2 separate regions of the Homo sapiens genome follow, and region 2 is linked to region 1. Evidence: fine-mapped expression QTL. Tissue or cell type: lung. Region 1 holds a variant in brackets; the other region holds the start of a gene. All regions are shown on one strand. Distances are between the middles of the regions.

The links. PIP is the estimated chance that this variant, and not a neighbour inherited with it, causes the effect.
Region 2: it holds the start of LINC02367, and the variant in region 1 is fine-mapped to the expression of LINC02367 in lung (GTEx, PIP 0.96).

The regions. Positions count from the first base shown.
Region 1 is chr12:9,319,930-9,330,390 of GRCh38, reverse strand. No RefSeq gene overlaps it. Among named protein-coding and RNA genes, the nearest start is that of LINC02367, 42 kb to the left of the region's middle. The variant G/C (reference allele first, on the strand shown) is at 4,081.
Region 2 is chr12:9,362,685-9,373,145 of GRCh38, reverse strand. LINC02367 (long intergenic non-protein coding RNA 2367) reads right to left here and starts at 5,682. Exons shown (of 4, transcript NR_120479.1): 1 at 3,550-5,682. It overlaps LOC101928030 (a long non-coding RNA gene), which reads left to right. Exons shown (of 2, transcript NR_120481.1): 2 at 1,114-1,364. RefSeq lists silencers at 8,430-8,539, 8,670-8,729 and enhancers at 8,141-8,657, 9,847-9,956.

The sequences.
Region 1 (10,461 bases):
TATTAAAATTAAAATATTAAAATTCTCACTTCAGAAGTGAGAATATTTGTTATCACTGGAGACTCTTCTCCAGCGCAGTGGCCTGAGATGACAACATGAGGGAACTCCTAGAGGGCTGACGATGTTCTGTTTCTTATGGGTACTGGTTACTGGGTGCACTTGCTTTGGACAATTCATTGAGCCACGCACTTATTATTTCCATATTTTTAGGCATACGAAATGCTATGCTATGCTATGCTTCAACACACAAATTCACAGAATCAACCTAAATGCCCATAAATGGAAGACTGGATAAAGAAAATGTGGTGCAAATACACCATGAAATACTATGCAGCCATAGAAAAAGAATGAGATCATGTGCTTTGCAGGAACGTGGGTGGAGCTGGAGGCCATTATCCTTAGCAAACTAAGACAGGAACAGAAAACCAAATCCTGCATGTTCTCATAAGTGGGAGCTAAATGATGAGAACACATGGACATGAAGAGGGGATCAACAGACAATGAGGCCTAGCAAAGGGTGGAGGGTGGGAGGAGGGAAAGGAGCAGAAAAAATAACTATTTGGTCCTAGGCTTAGTACCTGGGTAATGAAATAGTCTGTACATCAAACCCCTGTGACATGAGTTTACCTATAAAATAAACCTGCACATCCACCCCTGAGCCTACAATAAAAGTTTTTTTAAAAAAACAAATTCAAGCAATTGGATCTGGACTTTCATTTTTCTGGTTAATCCCAAGGCCAGCAGGCATAGGGGTTGGTTCAAGACTCTGGCATCGTAGCATCTAGATTCCTGTCCTGGGTATCACCACTTCCTATCTCAGAGATCTTGGCCACGGTACTAACTCTCCAAGCTCCAGTTTCATTATCTGTAAAAGGAGTTAATTATGCTTCCCATTTCATAGTTATTCAGAGGATTAAATCCTCACAAGAAATACTAGCTCTTGCGGGACTTCATGTTGTTTTTTGTTCTATGAACTATGGAGAAGACAGATGATGACCTGTGGTAAAGGAAGGAGAAGCATGAGGTTCAACCCAAAGATGTTGTCAAGGTGAAATGTAGACAGGGCCTCTTGGCTTGAACCGATAAATACAATCTATAGTTGTAAATTTTGAGGCCATCCATTAATAAATCCTCCATTCCTCCCACCTTTGTCTATAATTTTGTTAATAACGCTCGATGACATCATCAATCAGAAGATAGCCCAGGGCAGGGTCTCCCCTGAAATTCTCCCTCCAGGTGACAGTGATCCATTAAGCAGCCTGCTATGTGGCAAGAAGGAAAACGGGTTTGGATGTGTGTTGCTGCCACAGCAGCAGCTAAGAGCCCCAGGGACTTGGCTGCTGGCAGCATCCTCTACCAGAGTTTTCCTTCGACAGTGAGAAGACTCCCGGAGTCCTTAGGAGCCAGGATCTGGCTGTCGGGAGACAGCATTCATTCATGCATTCATTCAGTCGTTCTTCATTCATTTGAAAAAACATATTGAAGTCTTCTACAGGCTAGATGTGCTATGTCCTTATAATAAAGGTCAATAGGACACAATGCCTGCCCTCAAGGAGCTTGCCTGTCTAATAGAGAGTAATATCACAGCCAGAAGGACTCTATGAAAGAATCCAGCCAGGTCATGCCACTCTTCTGCTCAATACTCTGCGATGGCTCCCATGCTCCTCAGAGTAAAGTTCAAGGTCCTTCCCACAGCCCCATAGGACCTGGCCACCCCATAGTTCTTGTCCACCCCCCGTCCTCTCCCCTGCAGCCGCACCGCCCTCATTTTCAAACACAGCAGCCAAGTGCGCGCCTGCCTCCAGAACCTTGCACTGTACTTGTCTTTTTTTGTCTAGATGCTCTTCCCCCAAACACCTACCCTCCCTTCCTTGCAAGCCTTTCCTCGGAAGACACCTTCTCAGGGAGGCTTTGTCAAGCCCCACCCCATCTAAAATTTCAACACTCCCCAGCACTTCATATCCTCTTCCTGATTTATTTCTTCTTCTCAGGACATCTTCCTCTCTAATATTCTCTACCCTACTTACTAATCTTGTTTAATTGCCATCTCTCCCACCAGCATGTAGGCCTCTGAGAGCAGTGGGGAGCTGTGGATTATTTTGATGTGGTTTTGTTTGTTGTACCTAGAACACTTAGATTAGTGACTAATACAGTATATAGAAACTGGGAAAAGGAAGGAAGGGAAGGGAAGGGGAGGGAAGGGAAGGGAAGAGGAGGGGAGGGCATGTTCTCCTTACAACTCGATCCGACTCCCCTAGAAGAGGGGGCAGGGAAGGAGGGCAAAGCTAGGAGAGTTGAAGAATATTAAGAAGAGAATAAGGTAGCCAGAGTTAGCAAATAAAAATATAAAATGCCTAGTTAATTCTGAATTCCAGATAAAGAACAAATAATTTTTTAGCATAAGTATGTCCCAAACTAAGAATGGCACAAGACATATTTATGCTAAAGAAATTACGTATTCTCTAATAATAAATTATTTTCTCCAATGCACATTGATTTTGCATACTGTATTTTATCTGGCAACCCTAAAATAGAAGGACTACCCCCGTACTGCTTCACTCCAGCTGGACTCTTATCCTCTGTGACTACTCTCCTACCTTAGGAAAGATCCAAGTGGCCCCTTTCCTCCTCATCGCCATCCCTTGCCCTGCACATCTCGTTTTCCTGTGTCGCAGCAAGTCCAGCGCCTCCAAGACTTGGCTCTTCTCTCCCTCCTCAAACCCTTAAAAGAAAGGGCCAAGTCTGAACTCTTTGCCTTTGAGTCGTGGAGACACCAAAGATATTTAGGTTATAAGTCAAAGGGGAGAGGGAAGTCACATAGGTCCCACGGGCCTCAGACCTGCCACGTGTCCTCTCCCTAAGTCTCAAAGCTTAAGAAGACAAACCTTATGCGGCAGGAAGTGTTGGTTATAGCTGTTTTGCCACTCCTTCTGGTTATGTTATTTCTGTTCTTCTGATACTACAGCCCCCCTAGGTCATGAATTTCTCTGTCCATGCTAAGTTTAATATCTCTGCTCAAACCTTGTTAAACTGCCTCCAGAATAGGAAACTCTTCTTCCTGGCCTCATAAAGCTTGGAGCCCTCTCCAATGTATGTTACAAAATTTCTCTCTAGGCTTCTCAGAGGATTATAGGCTCCGCCTTAAAAAAGGCAAACTCTGGACACTCTGTGGAGTAGAATGGCCAAAGTTTAGAGTCAGGTGCACCCCCGCCCCCAGAAGGGTCACTGAACCTCGCAATTGTTCAGACTGTGTGGCGGGTTGTTGCTGGAACTCCCGGTCACCCCGATCAGTTTCCCTACATTGATCAATGGCTGAGTTTGGTCCGGAGCCCTCCTCCACGGCTCCGCTCATGCGCCATTCATAATTCTACCTCCAAGGTCCTTTTGAGCCAGACCTCACTTTCGCCTCGACCCTCAGCCGGCTCGGCTCCTCCTGTATTGCCTCCTTGTGAGGAAGAGGAAAGTTTCCTTCACCCAGTTCCACCGCCTTATAACCCTCCTGCTCCCTCAGAATGTTCTCTTGTCTCCTGCACTACCTCCCCTGTGGGCTCTCCACCTATTGCCTCCTGATCGCGGCCACGGCAGGAGGAGGTAGCCCCCCTCCTCCCGCTGAGGAGGCACAAGTCCCTCCGGGCGATAAGCACTCAGGCCCATTCTTAGTTTATGTCCGCTTCTCTACTTCTGACCTGTACAACTGGAAGACTCATAACCCCCCCTTTTCTGAAATGCCCCAGGTCTTGACCTCACTGATGGAGTCCATGCTCCGGACTCACCGGCCCACCTGGGAGGACTGTCAACAGCTCCTTTTAACCCTTTCCACCTCTGAAGAGAAGGAACGTACCCGAAGAGAGGCCAGAAAATATTTCCTTACATCAGACGGTAGACCAGAGGAGGAAGCTCATAACCTCCTAGAGGAGGTTTTCCCTCTACCCGGCCTAATTAGGATCCAAACTCCTCAGGCAGGAAGAGAGCTTTAGATGATTTTCACCAGTATCTCCTTGCGGGTATCAAAGGAGCTGCTCGAAAACCCATAAATTTGTCTAAGACATTTGAAGTTGTCCAGGGACCTGATGAGCCACC[G/C]GGGGCGTTTTTGGAACGCCTCCAGGAGGCCTACCGGAGTTACACCCCTTTTGACCCGGCGGCTCCCGAGAATAGCTGTGCTATTAATTTGGCATTTGTGGCTCAGGCAGGCCCTGATATTAAAAGAAAATTACAAAAACTGGAAGGATTTGCTGGAATGAACATTAGCCAACTTCTAGAGATAGCCCAGAAAGTTTTTGACAATCGAGAGTTTGAAAAGCGAAAACGGGCAGCTCAGGCAACTGAAAAGGCCGCCGATAAGGCATCCAAAAGACATGCGAAAATCTTAGTGGCGGCCATCCAGGAAGCCAAGAAGGAAAGGCCCCCATCACAGAGGAATGGCCAGGGAACCCCAGGTCCCCGCCAGAAAGGCAAGAAAGGCGAGCAGGCTCCCCTGGAGAAAAACCAACATGCTTATTGCAAGCAGACTAGACACTGGAAAAAAGAATGCCCATTAAAGCCAGAGGAAAAACCAGAAAAGAAAAATTAAGTCCTCACCCTCCCCGCAGCGGAGGAGTCTGATGACTGACGAGACCGGGGCTCCTTCTCTCTTGGCCCCCAGCAGCCCACGGTGACCGCCACAGTGGAGGGCCATGGTGACGTCCGGTAGCCTACTTGTCTTAAGAGGCTAGACCCTGTGGCCTCCACCAAGTAGCCAAGTTGTCTGTGAGCAGTAGCAGCAACAGCGAGCCTGGTCCAGGAAGCTGATAAACTGACTCTGGGCCAAAATTTAACCCTTACAGGTCCTCATGCTGTAGACACTTTACTATGAAGTGCCTCTGGCAAATGGATGTCAAATGCCCGCATCCTGCAGTATCACAGTTTACTGTTAGATCAGCCTCATTTAACTTTCTCTCCCACAAGATGCTTAAATCCAGCTACCTTGCTCCCTGACCCAGACCTTACCACACCTGTCCATGACTGCCAAGAACTGTTAGAGACTACGGAAACTGGCCGACCTGATCTCCAAGACGTGCCTTTAAAGGAGGCGGATGCCACTGTGTTTACAGACAGTAGCAGCTTCCTTGAGCAGGGAGTTCGAAAGGCTGGTGCTGCCATCACTACGGAGACGAATATACTGTGGGCCCAAGCACTGCCAGCAGGTACCTCGGCACAGAGGGCTGAGTTGATTGCCCTCTCTCAGGCCCTCCGATAGGGTAACGACGAACGTATTAAAATTCACACTGACAGCAGGTATGCTTTTGCTACTGTGCATGTACATGGAGCCATCTACCAAGAGCATGGGCTACTCATCTCAGCAGGAAAGGCTATCAAGAACAAAGAAGAAATTTTGGCCCTGCTTGAAGCTGTTTGGCTCCCTCAACAGCTGGCTGTAATTCACTGCAAATGACATCAAAAAGAAGACATGGCCATTGCCTGTGGTAACCAAAGAGCAGACTCTGCAGCCTGGGAGGCAGCTCAACTCCCAGTCACGCCTCTGACTCTGCTGCCTGCAGTGTCCTTTCCGCAACCTGACTTACCAGATCACCCAGAATACTCCCCAGAGGAGGAAAAATAGGCTTTGGATCTTCAGGCCAGTAAAAATCAGGAAGATTGGTGGATTCTTCCTGATTCCGGAATCTTCATACCCCAAGCTCTCGGGGAAACTTTAATCAGTCGTCTGCATTCTACCACCCATTTAGAAGGAGGAAACCTGGCCCAGCTTCTAAGGAGCCGTTTCAAGATCCCCCACCTTCAGGACTTAGCGAACCAAGCAGCTTGTGCCCAGGTGAACGCCAAGCAAGGTCCTAAACCCAGCTCAGGCCACCGCCTCCGGGGAGGCTCGCCAGGAGAAGGTAGGAAATTGGCTTTACAGAAATAAAACCACACCAGGCAGAGTACAAATACCTTCTGGTACTACTAGACACCTTTTCTGGATAGACTGAGGCATTTGCCACCAAGAACGAGACTGCCAGACTGCCACCACGGTAGTTAGGTTTTCACTCAATGAAATCATCCCTCGACATGGGCTGCCTGCTGCCATAGGGTCTGATAATGGACCGGCCTTCACCTCGTCCATAGCTCAGTCAGTCAGTAAGGCACTAAACATTCAATGGAAGCTCCATTGTGCCTCTCGATCCCAGAGCTCTGGGCAGGTAGAACGCATGAACCACACCCTAAAAAATACTCTTACAAAATTGATCTTAGAGACCGGTGAAAATTAGGTGAGACTCCTTCCTTTAGCCCCTCTTAGAGTGAGATGCACTCCTTACCGGGCTAGGTTTTCACCTTTTGAAATCATGTATAGGAGGGCTCCGCCTATCTTGCCTAAGCTAAGGGATACCCATTTAGCAGAAATCTCACAAGCTAATTTATTACAGTACCTGCAGTCTCTCCAACAGGTACAAGACATCATCCAGCCGCTTGTCCGGGGAGCTCATCCCAACCCAGTTCCTGACCAGACGGGGCTCTGCCACTCTTTCCAGCCGGGTGACCTGGTGTATGTTAAAAAGTTCCAAAAGAAAAAAAAAAAGGACTCACTCCTGCCTGGAAAAGACCTCATACTGTCATCCTCACCACACTGACGGCTCTGAAAGTGGACAGCATTCCTGCTCAAATTCATAACACCCCCTAGTACCAAAGCATGTTTAACTGTAATCCATGACTAACTACTCTAATTACTGGATTGGCGGGACCCCTTTCTCCTCCTCTTGTTTAGTCTTCAAACCTCGTAAGTTAAAACTGGTTTCTTAACTTTATAAAGCAACACATAGCTTCTGTCAAACTTATATATCTTAAAGTCCAATATAACCCTCTTGTAACAAGTGGGGAATATGATATGCTACCTTGTTTTAACCTGAATTGAGTCTCCCTTAGCTGAGAGAGCCAGACAAACTCCATTTTGGCTCCTTCACTTGCAGCTCCTTGCCCACCCAATTCCTCAAGGACTTAACTTGTGCAAGCTGACTCCCAGCACATCAGAGTGCAATTAACTGATAAGGTCCTGTGGCAAGTTATGTCCGCAGTTCCCAGGAATTCGCTCGGGTGATAGTATCCTAAGCCCCTGCATTTGTATCCAGTAGATAGCACCCAAAGCCCTTGCACCCATCACCTTGTGATGGATTTAAAGCCCCTGCACCTGGAACCATTTGTTTTCCTGTAACCATTTGTCTAACTTTTTTTTGCCTGTTTTACTTCTATAAGATTGCTATAGCTAGGCTCCCCTTCCCCTCTCTAAACCAAAGTATAAAAGAAAATCTAGCCCCTTCTTCAGGGCTGAGAGAATTTTGAGCGCTAGCCGTCTCTCGATCGCTGGCTAATAAAGAACTCCTGAATTAGTCTCAAAGTGTGGCGTTCCTCTATTACCCACTTGGTTACAACAGCTTTATATTAATAATTGTAGTAATAAAGTTGATCGCACATAGGATGGAGGAGGCACCTGCCTGGTGAGATGAGACAATGGTCGGATTCACTGAGGCTCCTGCGTGTCCCGGATTTCCCGCTGGGGGAGGGTGTTCCGCTCAGCGGTTCCCACACCTGCTTCCATGGGAGAAGCAAGAAGAAGTCAGAAGGGTGGGCGAAGGAGTCAGAAGCTTCTATTATTGGTTCGGGGAGATGCTGTGTCGGGGGCATCAATTATATGGGGAACCAACCAGTTGCCAACTCCTGACCCTTGGAGTTGACCCCACACCGCTTAAACCTCTGCGCTGGTTCCCCGGGGGCCCACAGTGAGGTCTGTAACTCAGGGAGAGGCGCTGGAGCGGGGTGTGGGAGAATGGTGTGCAGGACGGGCTCCATGCACTTTGAAACTATAAACTGCCTTATGAGACAGGGGTACGGTGTGTGTGCATTTTCCTGGGAGAGTCCATAGTTTTTACCACATTGTGTAAAGCAATGCTGTGCAGTAGAAATATTACGCCATACACAATACATATGTACAGTTTTAGTTGTCAAAGAAACTGAAAGAAGATCTTGATGAACACGGATGGCATAGATGTGAGGAAAGCACCATTATTAAAGAATATTTATGCATTTATGTAATGCATTAAAAGGTAACAAAATGGATAAGCAGGTAACACAATAGCAAAGACCGAGAGTGAACTGCAGTCATCCACTGGGGAACTGAGGAGTCAGGGTTTCTCATTACAAAACTCCCTGATGGAAGACTATTACTTATCAACTATTTATTGTCTTTCCACTAAATAAGAAGTGATCGTCATCTTTTCAGATGAGCACCACAGACTTTGCAAAAGATAATTGCCAATTAACCTTTGTGCCTGGATTTTCTCATTCCTAAAAATAGATAGTATTACATGACTCCAAAGTTTGTTGTGAAGTTAATTGGGGTGGTGTATCTTAAAGTAACAAAAATGTTGACCACACGGGGGGGGGGTGGTTAGTGTAAGACTCTCTGTTTTTCTGTCTATATATATATATATATATATATATATATATATAAAAAGTATAGTTTAGGTTTACATAAAGACAAAGTATCATAAAAAGGGGTCTTACAATCGGTAGTACTAAAAAAATTTTTAAACTCCAAGATCTTCAATTTTAATGTATAAAAATAATAAAACATACTGATAAATAACAGAAGTTCTATAGTCAGACAACATAGGTTCAAGTTTGGGCTTGATCTCAAGTAGGGTTTCAATGTTGAAAAAAAATGCCATGTGGTCTTTCCAACTTCATTTCCTTATGTAACATAGGAGATAATAATAAATTCACTGTGATTAAGAGTTAAATGGAATAGTTCTTGAGAAGGTGTTAGAATGGTTCTAACATACATGGGTATTATGAGCTAATATTTGTAGTACCATTGTAGCATAAGGAAATACCATCTGCTGAGAGAGGCACAATAATGATTATCTTCATGATAATAGTTTAAGAGCTACCAGATACAGAACGAAGGGGCCATAAAATGATAATGTTATGAATGATTTTGATGCTTACGCCAGAATCCATTCTAGGATAGCTCCTGCCTGAAAAGAACTGGGATTCATTTCTTTGGAATCACAGGACACTGAGTGTGGCAAAAAGAAAACAAAAGAAAAATATGGAAATCACATATGTGATTTTAACATAGAAAGAAATAGGAGAGGCTGGGCGTGGTGGCTCATGCCTGTAATCCCAGCACCTTGGGAGGCCAAGGCGGGCAGATCACCTGAGGTCAGGAGTTTGAGACCAGCCTGGCCAACATGGTGAAACCCCGTCTCTACTAAAAGTACAAAAATTAGCTGGGCATGGTGGCAGGTGCCTGTAATCCCAGCTACTCAGGAGGCGAGGCAGAAGAATTGCTCAAACCCCAGAGGTGGAGGTTGCAGTGAGCCAAGATTGTGCCACTGCACTCCAGCCTGGGAAACAGAGCAAGACTCAGTTGAAAAAAAAAAGAAACAGAAGAAATTAGCAATATATTTCATTTACTCCAATGTATCCAAATTATGGTCATTTTAGCATGTAATCAATATAGATTTTAATGAGATAGTCTATGTTCTTTTTTCCTAAGTCTGAAATTCGGTGTGTATTTACACTGACAGCACATCTCAATTTAGACTAGCCACATTTCCAGTGCTGAGTGGCTGCATGTACCTGGTGGCTACCACACTGGACAGCACAGGTCTAAGGATTTCATTCCTGGTTCAAGACCAGACTCCTAGCCTTGGTTTTGGGTGTTTTTCACAAACTGGCCTCTCTTTATCATTCTTTTTCCTGGTACTTCCTCAAGGATGACTGTGTCCCCACCACTCAAGACCACTTGCCGTTTCACTACGTACCTTTGTTCAAGCTGTTCCTTTTACCTGGGATGCTCTCTCGTTTCGTTTTGTTTTGTTTTTCTGAGACAGGGTCTCACTGTGTTGCCCAGGCTGGAGTACAGTGACATGATCATGGCTCACTGCAGCCTCCACTGACCTCCTGGAGCTCAGATGATCCTCTCACCTCATCCTTCCCTAGCAGCTGGGACTACAGACCTGCACCACCACACCCAGCTAATTTAAAATATATATATTTGTTGGTAGAGACAGGAGTCTATGTTGACCAGGCTGGTCTTGATTCTTCCACCATGGCCCCCCAAACTTCTAGGATTATAGGTGTGAGCCACTGCTCCCCACCTGGAATGCTGTCTCTGCACCTTCTCCCTGGGCCTGGTAGAGAGGCACACATTCTGCTGAGAGGTTTTTTCCTGACTTCCCTAGCCCTAGAAGGGAATTTGTCCCTCCTTAGCATTGTACTCATGGCTGGATTAGAGTTTAACTGTTTTTGAGGCTGTTTCCCTGGCTATTGCATAGTGTCTTATTCACCTTTGTTGTGATAATGGTCTGCACTGAATAGATGATCAGTAGATGCTTGCAGACAGAATGAATAAACCACTAATCAGCCTCTTAATGCTTGAATGGACTTGCTACTTCCTTGTTTAGATTCGTGTCTGTACAATCCTCT
Region 2 (10,461 bases), 43 kb before region 1:
AATAACAAATGACAATAAAAATCTTTATAAATGGGTCAAATAAGTATTTCACAAAAGAGGCCATTCACACAGCCAATAAGTATATGAAAACCTGTTCAACTTCATTAACTATCAAGAAAATACAAATTAAGCTGACCATGGTGTGCATGCCTGTGGTCCCAGCTACTCCAGAAGCTAAGGAGGGACAATTCCTTGAGCCCATGAGGTGGAGGCTGCAGCGAGCTATGATCACACCATTGTACTCCAGCCTTAGCAACAGAGTAAAACCACGTCTCAACAACAACAACAACAAAAAAAAAAAAAAGAAAGAAAAAAAGGAAAGAAAATGCAGGTTATATAGCACTGCATTCCCCAGATGCACTAGAATGAAAAGAACTAACAATACCACGTGTTGGCAAGAGTGTGGAGCTACTAGTGCTTTTGTCTGCACTTGGTGGGCGTGTAACTTGAACCACAACTATAAGAAACTTTCTGTATCTGCTAAAGCTACATGTAAGAAAAAACCATGACCTAGCAATTCAATTTCTTAGGTATCTACCAAACTGAAATGAGCATTTATGTTCACCAAAAGTCATATACAAACACATTCAGAGATGATGAATGTTCATTCATCATCATCAAAAAGTGGAAGGAATAGAATGGATACAGTGTGGGGTGCTCCGGCCATGGAAGATTACAAGACAGTGAAAGGCAGTGAGCTCCTCCTGTCTGCCACAAGAGGGATGAATTTCACAGACATAATGTGGAAACAAGGAAGCCAGTCACAAAACAGTCCATACTGTATGATTCCTCTCATTCCCACTGATTTCAGAAACAGTGTTTGGAGGTTACTCAATTGTCGTGAAAAGAAAATCAGGAAAGACACTGACACACCAATTTACTATCAAGGGTAGGGTAACCAATTGCTATTTGTAGTTGTCCTGTGTAGATAAAGGATTCAAAGCATGGAACAAAACACCTTTGGTGTTAGACGTAGGCAGGAGTAGGTGAAGCTTGATCTGGTTTTTCTCATCTCCCTTCCTTGGCCTGGTCAGCTTCATCATCAGCATTTTCCTCCTCCTCACTCCTCCCCCAGTATCGTTATTCTAATTTCTGTCGTTTTTTTTCCCCTAGGAAATATACATTTTCTAGAGCCCAATCTGCCAGGAGAGATCTAAGAGATTACAAAGGAAAAAACTTGAAATTCTGAGGACAGAGAAAAGAAAAAGGAAGAGTTAATGACTAGTGAGACACCATCATGTAGACTGGTGCCACATGGAATCTGGGGCAACAGAACATGATCTATCCAGATGGACATACAGGGAAAGCTGGTGCTGGGAAGCACCTTAAGCTACATGATTGCAATAAATTTTGCTCACCAGTGATTGTGGGGGCTGAAGTATATTTCTCTTTGTTTCCAGTGTTGCCCAAGTTTGAAGTTAAAGTCAATGCACCATGAACAGTAACTATTTCAGATGATGGATTCCAAGTGGATGCGCGTGCTAAGTAAGCATTTATTCAGGAGATTTGCCTTCACAAGGAGACACAAAGCTTAGAGATAATAAGTGAGATTAACCAGGGAACTTAAATTATTTATATGCTTGCATTAATATTATTAGAGAAGCAATGTATTCTCATTGTAGAATATTTGAAAAATATAAAGAAAAAGATTAGAAATTACGTAAAATTAATTCTACCAACAGCCATTAACATTGTGATTTATTGTTCTACCATAAAGAAATACATACACACATGTTCATTGCAGCACCATTCACAATAGCAAAGACATGGAATCAACCTAAATGTCCATCCACGGCAGACTGGATTTAAAAAAAAATGTGGTACATGTGCACCATGGACTACTCTGCAGTCACATAAAAGAACTAGATCATGTCCTTTGCAGGGACATGGATAGAGCTGGAGGCCATTATCCTTAGCAAACTTACAAAGGAAAAGAAAGCCAAATACCGAATGTTCACATTTATAAGTGGGAGCTAAATAATGAGAACACACGGAGACAATAAGGGGAATAACAGACATTGAGGCCCACTTGAGAGTAGAAGGTCGAAGGATAGAGAGGACCAGGAAGAATAACTATTGGGTAGTAGGTTTAGTGCCTGGAAGACAAAATAATATGTACAACAAACCCATGTGACATGAGTTTACCCATCTAACCTACATGCACTTGTGCCCCTGAACCTAAAATAAAAATTAAAGAGAGAGACAGATACACAAGCTCAAAACCAAGGACTGAGAACAAGCTTCTGCCTGGAGCAGGAATGGATGACATGGTTCACCAATCCTGAAAAGGACATGGAAGTGATAGATATACCAGTAAATCCAGATATGCTCATGGAAAACAGATGTAGAGGGAGAAGTTGTATTTAGCTTAAGGGAATGTATTCTGGAAATAAGGAAAATAGAATGCATGAGAAAAGTGGTTAATGGTCACTGATGTCTACTGGTTGTTGTGGAAAACAGTCAACAGTCTTAACTAAAAAAGAGATGAACAGACTTTTAGGGGAGGGTCACAGAGTCTAAACTTCAGTTATAAAACAGAATCTCAAAATTAGCTAGCTAGCTAGATAGATAGACATATTTATTTTCCTCTAATTTTTAATGAATATTTTTCATGACTGCCATCATATTTTTCTGTTCATGATAACTAAGAAAACTTGTCTCTATATTATGCCAATCTTTTCATAAATTCCAATTTTCTGCTGCATAAACATATCTTTATGTGACTACACGAAATTTATTTAGTTATGCTTTTATTATATAACATATAGATTATTTCATTTTGTTTTCCTAGTAATTAATAATTTTGTAGCATATGTCTTTGTGTATAACTATATAGTAAGTAGCTTTTGAATTAGGAATTGTTCACTTAAGAAAGATTTCCAGAAGAGGAATTACCAAGACAAAATATGCAACATTCTTTTAGTCTTCTGATTGCCATATTGCTCACCAAATATGTTGTGTCAACGTAGAATTCCAGCAGCTAGTATGGAAGTGCCTGTCTCACTGAATCTTCACCATCATTACATATTTTCATTAAAATAAGAAAACAAGCTATTGGAATGTCATTGTGAAGATAAGGCATCATCCATTTAATTTGAATTAATTGGAATCTTCTTAATGTTACAAAATAAGTCCTATATGATTTGAGAAATTTTTATTTTCTTTTGGGGGAATTATTTTCAATGCCTTTTATCCTTTTTTAGTGTGATTCTTTTTCTCAAATTTCTAATAATAATTTTTTAAGAGCTAATATTTTTGAATGTCAATTAGTGTGATAAGCTCTGCATATATGATTGCTACAGTGCTATTAGGTAGGAGCAATCATCACCTCTATAAGGAAAGATACTAAGACACCGATAATTCAAATAACTTATCAACAGTAATGGAGCTTGTTGATGAAAGAACCGGGATTTAGACCTAGGCTGTTCGGCTTCAGAGCTACTCTCCTAATCAATAACTCTCTTGCACTTTACATAAACAGTTAAAAATATTAATATTTGCCATATTTGTTAAACATTTTGTTTAGTTGATTACATGAAAATTACTTGCCTTTGAGTATTTTCAGCAGACTATTAGAGATACATTGGGTAAAGGGCCGTCTAATGAACATGCAAGGGGAGTTCTTAAGGATGCCCCAGAGATTCTTGGAAACCAGTTTTCAGCCTTTTTTTTTTTTTGGTAGTATTTAACATCTTCTTTGGATTCCAGCAAAGTGATCCTAAAATTTTTCTCAGTTTCAATGAAGAGCAGTTGAACTTGTGCCAGAATTCAATTTATGTAATAGATGAAAGATTGTAGATTATCCATGTTAAAAATGATGGGATAATCAGAACAGCTTGGACAAATCCAGGATCCTAAACAGGCTTCACTAGAAAACTCTACACAAAGCCAGAACTTGCAATGGCATTAATATCTCATTTATTTATCTGCACAGTAGTATGCTAAAAAAAACTACAACACATTGTTTGGGAGAGCAAAACTGTTTCTCAAGCATGGCCTTTGAAAAAGACTTGCTAACCAAATGCTTACATGGAACTGATGGTTCCTTAGCACTACGTCAGGTTATAATCCATGATCCTGATTTCTTGAAACTTCTTTAATATATTCTGGGTAGACTTACATTAAAAAGTAAATTAGTATCAGTAATAATAATATCCTGCCAGGCTGCCAGGCAGCTAGACTGGAACTATGCTTGCTACAAAGTTATTTCCAGACAGACTGTGAGCACACTGTGCCTAGAAGTTCACATCAATTTTATAATACTGTGTCTCAAATTGTATGATACTGTGTCTGTGCATTGCTTCTTTAGTACTTCCTGGGATTTAGCTTGGAATGGCTAGAGAAAATGAGCAAATTAGATTATTTTAGTAAACAAACTCAGAGATGAATTAGGCTTTTAAGAGAGGAAAAACACTTACAGGTGAAGGTATTTTAACAAATCGCTTTAGCATCCATGGAAAGCTTTCAAATCACAAACAAAGGGAGAATACTTATCCTATCCCATAGAGATTTAAGCTACATGTCTCATGGGCATATATTAGCCTGCCAATAATACTAGGGTGCGAGTTTGATTGTATACATGAGAAACATTAAAAAGAAATAATAAGAAATGTTTAGGCATAACATTTGTGGCTGAATCTTAGTCTGGCTTCTATATGATCATCAGACGTGACAGATGATTTCAGTGATATGAGTTGAGACAGAATCTCAAATGTGTTATGAAATTTTTAATAGAAAGAGAAAAAGATGAGTGGGAAGGAAAAAGCACAGACTGTGGAGTGAGGCAGATCTGAGTCTGAATTTTAGTTTCATCAATTACAATGTGGAAAAGTGAGTTGCTTGACCTTGAACATTTTACAGATTGAGAAATTGAGGTTTAGAGATTAATTTGCCCAAAGTCTCATAGCTAGCGAGTAAGAAGCTAGAGGTTTCAAACTGGGGACTTTCTGATGTCAGAGCTCAAGCTTGTCACCACCGTGCTCCTGGGGAAACGGTCAGGAGAAAGCCAAGTTTCCAGGAAACTGGAATGGCCGCAGTGAAGAATGACCCTCTTATATCCTGCTGATTAGATGACCAGACTTGGTCATCACAGACTTTGAGCATCACAGTGGAAGAGGGGCCAGAAGAGGAGGGCAGTTTCCTGTGTTGCTCCGGAGTTGCCTCATGTTGCCCACATTTTTCTGGGGCTGACATATATTTTTCCAGTAGGTGTGACCTGAGGGTGTTGGGGCTTTACTTTTGTGCTGGTGCAGGCAGTTTTCAGGCTCATATAAACACTCACTCGGCTGTTTATTTATTCATTCAACAAGCATTTCTTAGACACCTCCTCTTCTAATTCTTGGGCCAGTAAATAAGTATGGTCCCTGACCCAACAAATCTAGCTCAGGTTCAGAGATGCACAACCTCATTCCAGCAAAGCTTTCTGTAGATTATCGGGGGCAGCTCTTACTACCCTTGATCTTTCCCACTTCTCAGCTATTCCTGTACCAACAGAAAGCTCTCCCATGGAGGAATGGCAAAGAGATGGAAAAATGCGGCTGTGAATTGGGCTGAAGTTTTGGGGAAGGATGTGGAAGCCAGAGACTAACAAGAAGTTTTGATAGTGGGTGTGATGTCCCTCCCCCTCCCTGCTGTTCCATTTCCTTGGGCACTTAGGCTGGTCTCATGATCTAAGGGCCAACTGCTCATGTGAAAATCCATCCCAGCATCCTCAGCTCAAATAACTGCTGCTTGCCACACGCCTGCCCCAACGGAATTAACGGAAGCTGCTGATAGCCCTGCTGACCTCATTGGATGGAACCGTGTCCTCAGCAGACAGGAGCTCCTTCCTCTTCTGAGTGAGACTCCCTCCTATCTTGGAGCAGGAAGTCCTCTCAGGAGAAGTCCAAGCTTCAGACAGAGAAGGAGCAGGTGCCATTCATTTACTCCCCTCAGTGTTGACCCAAAAGGCAGAGGCTGAGACGCAAAGCATAATTTAAAGAGTTTACTTGAGCCAAAGTGAGGACAGCTGCCTGGAAGACTCAGACCCAAGTACTCTTGGCTGTGAGCTTCCTAGAGCCTTTGTTCCAAGCAGGTTTTTAAAAACAAAAGACTGGGACCGAGAGAGTGGGCTGGTACAAAGTTGTTGATCAGGAACTCTCTTTGGATTACAGAAACAAAATTGATGAGCAATTGGTTATTGTTAAGTTATAGGATGTGGTTTATGCTTCTGGTGAGACACTATAATAATCCTAAATTAAAATTAATTCATAGCTACTTGTGGCAATAGCAAGCAGTTTTAAGAGATGAATACATAGCTCAAAGCGGGGAGTAGGGTGTGATTGCTCTCATTTTAACGTCTCTCCAGGCCTCATAGTTTAAAAAGGATTCACCTTCCTCAGATGAAAGCTCTTTAGGTTTTGCATCAGGAACCTCCTTTTCTGCTTTCTTGGAGGGTCAGGATGGGTCCCATGAAGAGCTGCTGGTGGGGACAGACAGAAGCCAAGGAGAGGCCGGGCAAGGAAGCTGAAGTGCTTGGCAGGGGGCAACAGTCCCCTGCCTGCAACCAACGTTAAAAAACACTGTCACTTCAGGCCGAAAGTGGTAGAAACCAGTTTGTTAAATCACACGAATGTATATATTAGGCATGCCTGGCTAGTCCTTTGCCAAGAGATCTTGTAGCATAACTGCAGGCAAATAGAAAAGACATGAAAATCGTTAATCACTGCACAAGCTTAGGGATCAGTTCTTTTTGGAGGGTGGTGAGTGGTGGAGGTACTGGAAAATGTGTACAGAAAGAGTGAAATAAGTGGAAGAAAGGCCCTAGGACTCAGGGTTTGCTTACAGTGGGATCAGAGACACCTGGAAGGATGAAGACAAAAATCCAGATTATAATTGGCCCTGGGAGTGAGACTTCATGACAATTGTGTTACCTTGAGAATTTCTTTTTAGTTCCTGGCTTCAGATTTAAGGTTATGGTTGATGGATGAATATACTTTTGGAATCTACTTTTGGAAGACCTTCTCTGGGCTGAAGTTGATAGCTAGGTTAAAATATCAAGGACTTCGGTAAATCTCTAGCAGAGCTTCACTACAGCAGAGAGGGAAAAACACCAGATTTAACATTTCATTCTTGGTGCTGCTGAGCTGTGTGCTCTAGGACAAGACATTTAACTTTTTCAGCTGCGTCCTAGAAGGATTCACACCTATCTCCCAAGACTTTGGCAATGATTAGGAGGGAGAATAACTAGGAAAAAGATAAGTGAACTGTGAAGAGCTGTGACCTTACAATGGTGACGGTGACGGTGATGATCTTTATACTCTTGGGAGGGTTGGTGCAGATTCTTGCCTGCAGCAATCATAAGCAGAGGCTAATGCTTCCATCTTTAAGATTCTCATAGTAAGGTTAAAAGATACTGATATTACCTAATGTTTAACATAACTGGACCCACTACCTACTGCTTCATGCACAGAAGTTACAGGGCTGAGGGACCCTCCATTAGCCACACTGAGGATCTGGGTTATAAATGAGTGGAATGTGTAAGGGGAGAAGAGATCTTTAGCGATCTTTGAGAGCAATATTAGCAGTGAAATGAATGCAAACCACATCTTGCCTCTTTGAAGTAATAAAGGAAGGGAAAAAAGTTATGCAAGCAAAGAAGTGCTTTTGTTTCCCCAGCCATGAATCCTGGTTAAAAATTGCACACAAACCACAAGGACAGTCAATACCATCATCTCAACTCCTAATGTGCTGTGTTTCAGGAAAAAAAAAAAAAAAAAACTAAACTAAAATTAAAGCAGTATCACACTGTCTTTGACTTGCTAGCTTTATATTCTTTTGTGAAAATCTCAAGACGTTACCCATCTTCAGAGGTAGCTCATTCCTCCCAGGCATGGAGCCGGGGAGGGTAAATGAAATGTCTCATACAACTCAGTCATTCATTTGCTCAGTGTTTATTAAGACCTAACATGTGCCAGGCTCTCTCCTAGGTGGGGCTAACTAAAGTAAGCCCAAGAGGTACTGTCCTTAAGGGGAGGAAAGACACGTACTCCAGTATCTGTATTTGGGTAAAGAAAGTGATTTGTCAAGAGAGAACAGGATTGGGATTGTTTAAAGTATGTTCACAGCCCACAGACCAAATGGACTCCCTATGACTCACTGAGGTACTCATATTTAAAACAGAAACCCAGTGGCTACAGCCGGGTGTGGGAGCGATCACATACTCTGTGTTCTCAGAAAGATATAAGAGCATCACAGGACCCCTCTTTTCACAATCAAGCCAAACCAGCGCCTGCTGTTGCTCCCAGGACAAACTGCTGCTGGGCCCCTCCCACCACCAGCCAGCCACAGTCTGACAGAGACTCCCAGTTTAGGGCTTGGAAACCAATCAATCAGAGCTCATCTGCTCGGTTAATCAGGGCTCAGCTGCATCAGAGGAAAGCAAATGCAAATGAATCTGGGTTCATATGCAAATGAACCTGATGGGGAACCTGGGCAGCAAATTTTGCTATAAAGCCCGACTCCTCTCTGTTCTCTGAACGCACATTCATTTTACACTGAACTCTGGTCTCTCAGTGTTAGTCCAAACTGCACCATGTCATAAGCTCTCCCTGCTATTTTGCAGACCTTAGTCAAAGTGAAACAGGGGTTCGGGTGTGAGAAACGTCCTGCCTAACCACCTGACCACAAGGCAGACAAAGGCCTAACCAAAGACACATCTCTATCATATCATGCTGGACAAAGATCCGAGGAACACCACAACGAAATCCCACTGGAACAAGGGCCAGAACCATCTCATCACGGGAACATCTTATCAATATCCTGCCAGGCAGCAAGCCATACTGCCCGGACCCCTTTGGCCCATAAATTGCCCCAGCCTGTAAGCAGCAGTGGGCTCTGGCATTATGCTGGTTCCTGACTTCTGTAGGTTTTATGCTGGACATAAAGCCTGCATTTGCTATTAAGCCACCCTCTTACGTATGTCTTTCTTTAACCCTCGCCTTCCCTTCAAAACCTAACACCCAGTTTTGTCCACTGGAATAAAGTCTCTTTCCTCCAAATACCTTTTCAGAAAACATTTGTTCATGGGGTTTAGAAGGAGGAGTAGTTATTTCTAGGAAATCTAATCAGCTGGAGGTAGACTGAGTTGAGTGCTTGGAAAGGAAACAGTGGGCAATACTACTAGAAATAGATTTTGACCAGATCACAGGTGGCCTTGAATGATGAGATAGGAATCTGTGACTTTAATTTCAAGGAATAGGGGTCACCGAAGCTTTTTGAGCAGGGGAGTATTATGATCATCTGGCTGTAAATAAACCCTGAAATGTAGAATCTCATTTTTGAGAATGAACTTAGAAGATAATTACATGGGTAGGTTTGAGGATGACTTGAGGACATTTAAAAAGGGCCTAGCAGTTTTGGCTTGCCCTCCTGCTAATAGCATTTGCTGCTTTTCATTTACACTTTATCGTGCACGGAGAACTCTGCATACATACAAAGCAGAGTCTAATTTTTCCTAATTCATCTCTGTAGCCAAAGTAGACTCGGACACTTAAGAATATAGACAACACTCCTACCTAAAATGCCCAGAGAGAAATTTTACATGGCTAAAAGTGGGAGCTAGCTACCCCAGCCCAGAGGTGTTTCTTTCTAAGAGGAAGGGCACTGACACAGAAAACTGTACTATGCTGCAGTGACCAGAAGAATGGACCCTCCCTGCACCTGCTGTGGAGGAGGAGGGTGGGACGTGGCAGTGCACCAGACTCTGCTCATCTCAGTTCAAGTCTAGGCATTGCCACTAATCTGTGCGACCTTGAATGAGTCACTTTTCCTCTCTGGGCCTGAGTCTCCACATCTGTTAATCGAGAGGTGAGATTGGATGGTTTTAAGAACAGGTTCTTGTGCTGACGTCCTGTGGGCTTGTGGGACTGAGTAAGACTGCTATGAGCTCTGGCGTGGCTGGTCTGATGATCCCCAAGTTTCTCTCCTTTCTCCTCGGTGCTGAGGGAAGCAACACAATGAGATACGCTTTTGTTCCAAACGCTGGCCGCATCTCACGGTCTGAGTTGAGTCCTGGCCCTGCTGTAGGTTAGCAGTGTGAACTTGGGCAAGTCACTTAACCTCTCTGAGCCTCTGTTTTCTTTTCTGAAAAATAATGAGTCAATGTCGTCTAACCCAAGAAAAATGGAGGGATAGAAACAAAAAATTAGAGGCTGGATGGTGTGGCTCACGTCTGTAATTCTAAGTTTGGAGGCTGAGGTGGGCAGATTGCTTGAGCCCAAGCAATTTGAGACCAGCCTGGGAAACATAGCAAAACCTCATCTCTACAAAAAATACAAAACTTAGCTGGGTGTGGTGGTTGGGCACCTGTAGTACTAGCTACTCAAAAGGCAGAGGTGGAAGGATCACCTGAGCCTGGGAAGTCCAGGCTGTGGTGAGCTGTGATTGTGCCACTACACTGCAGTCTGGGTGACAGAATAATAT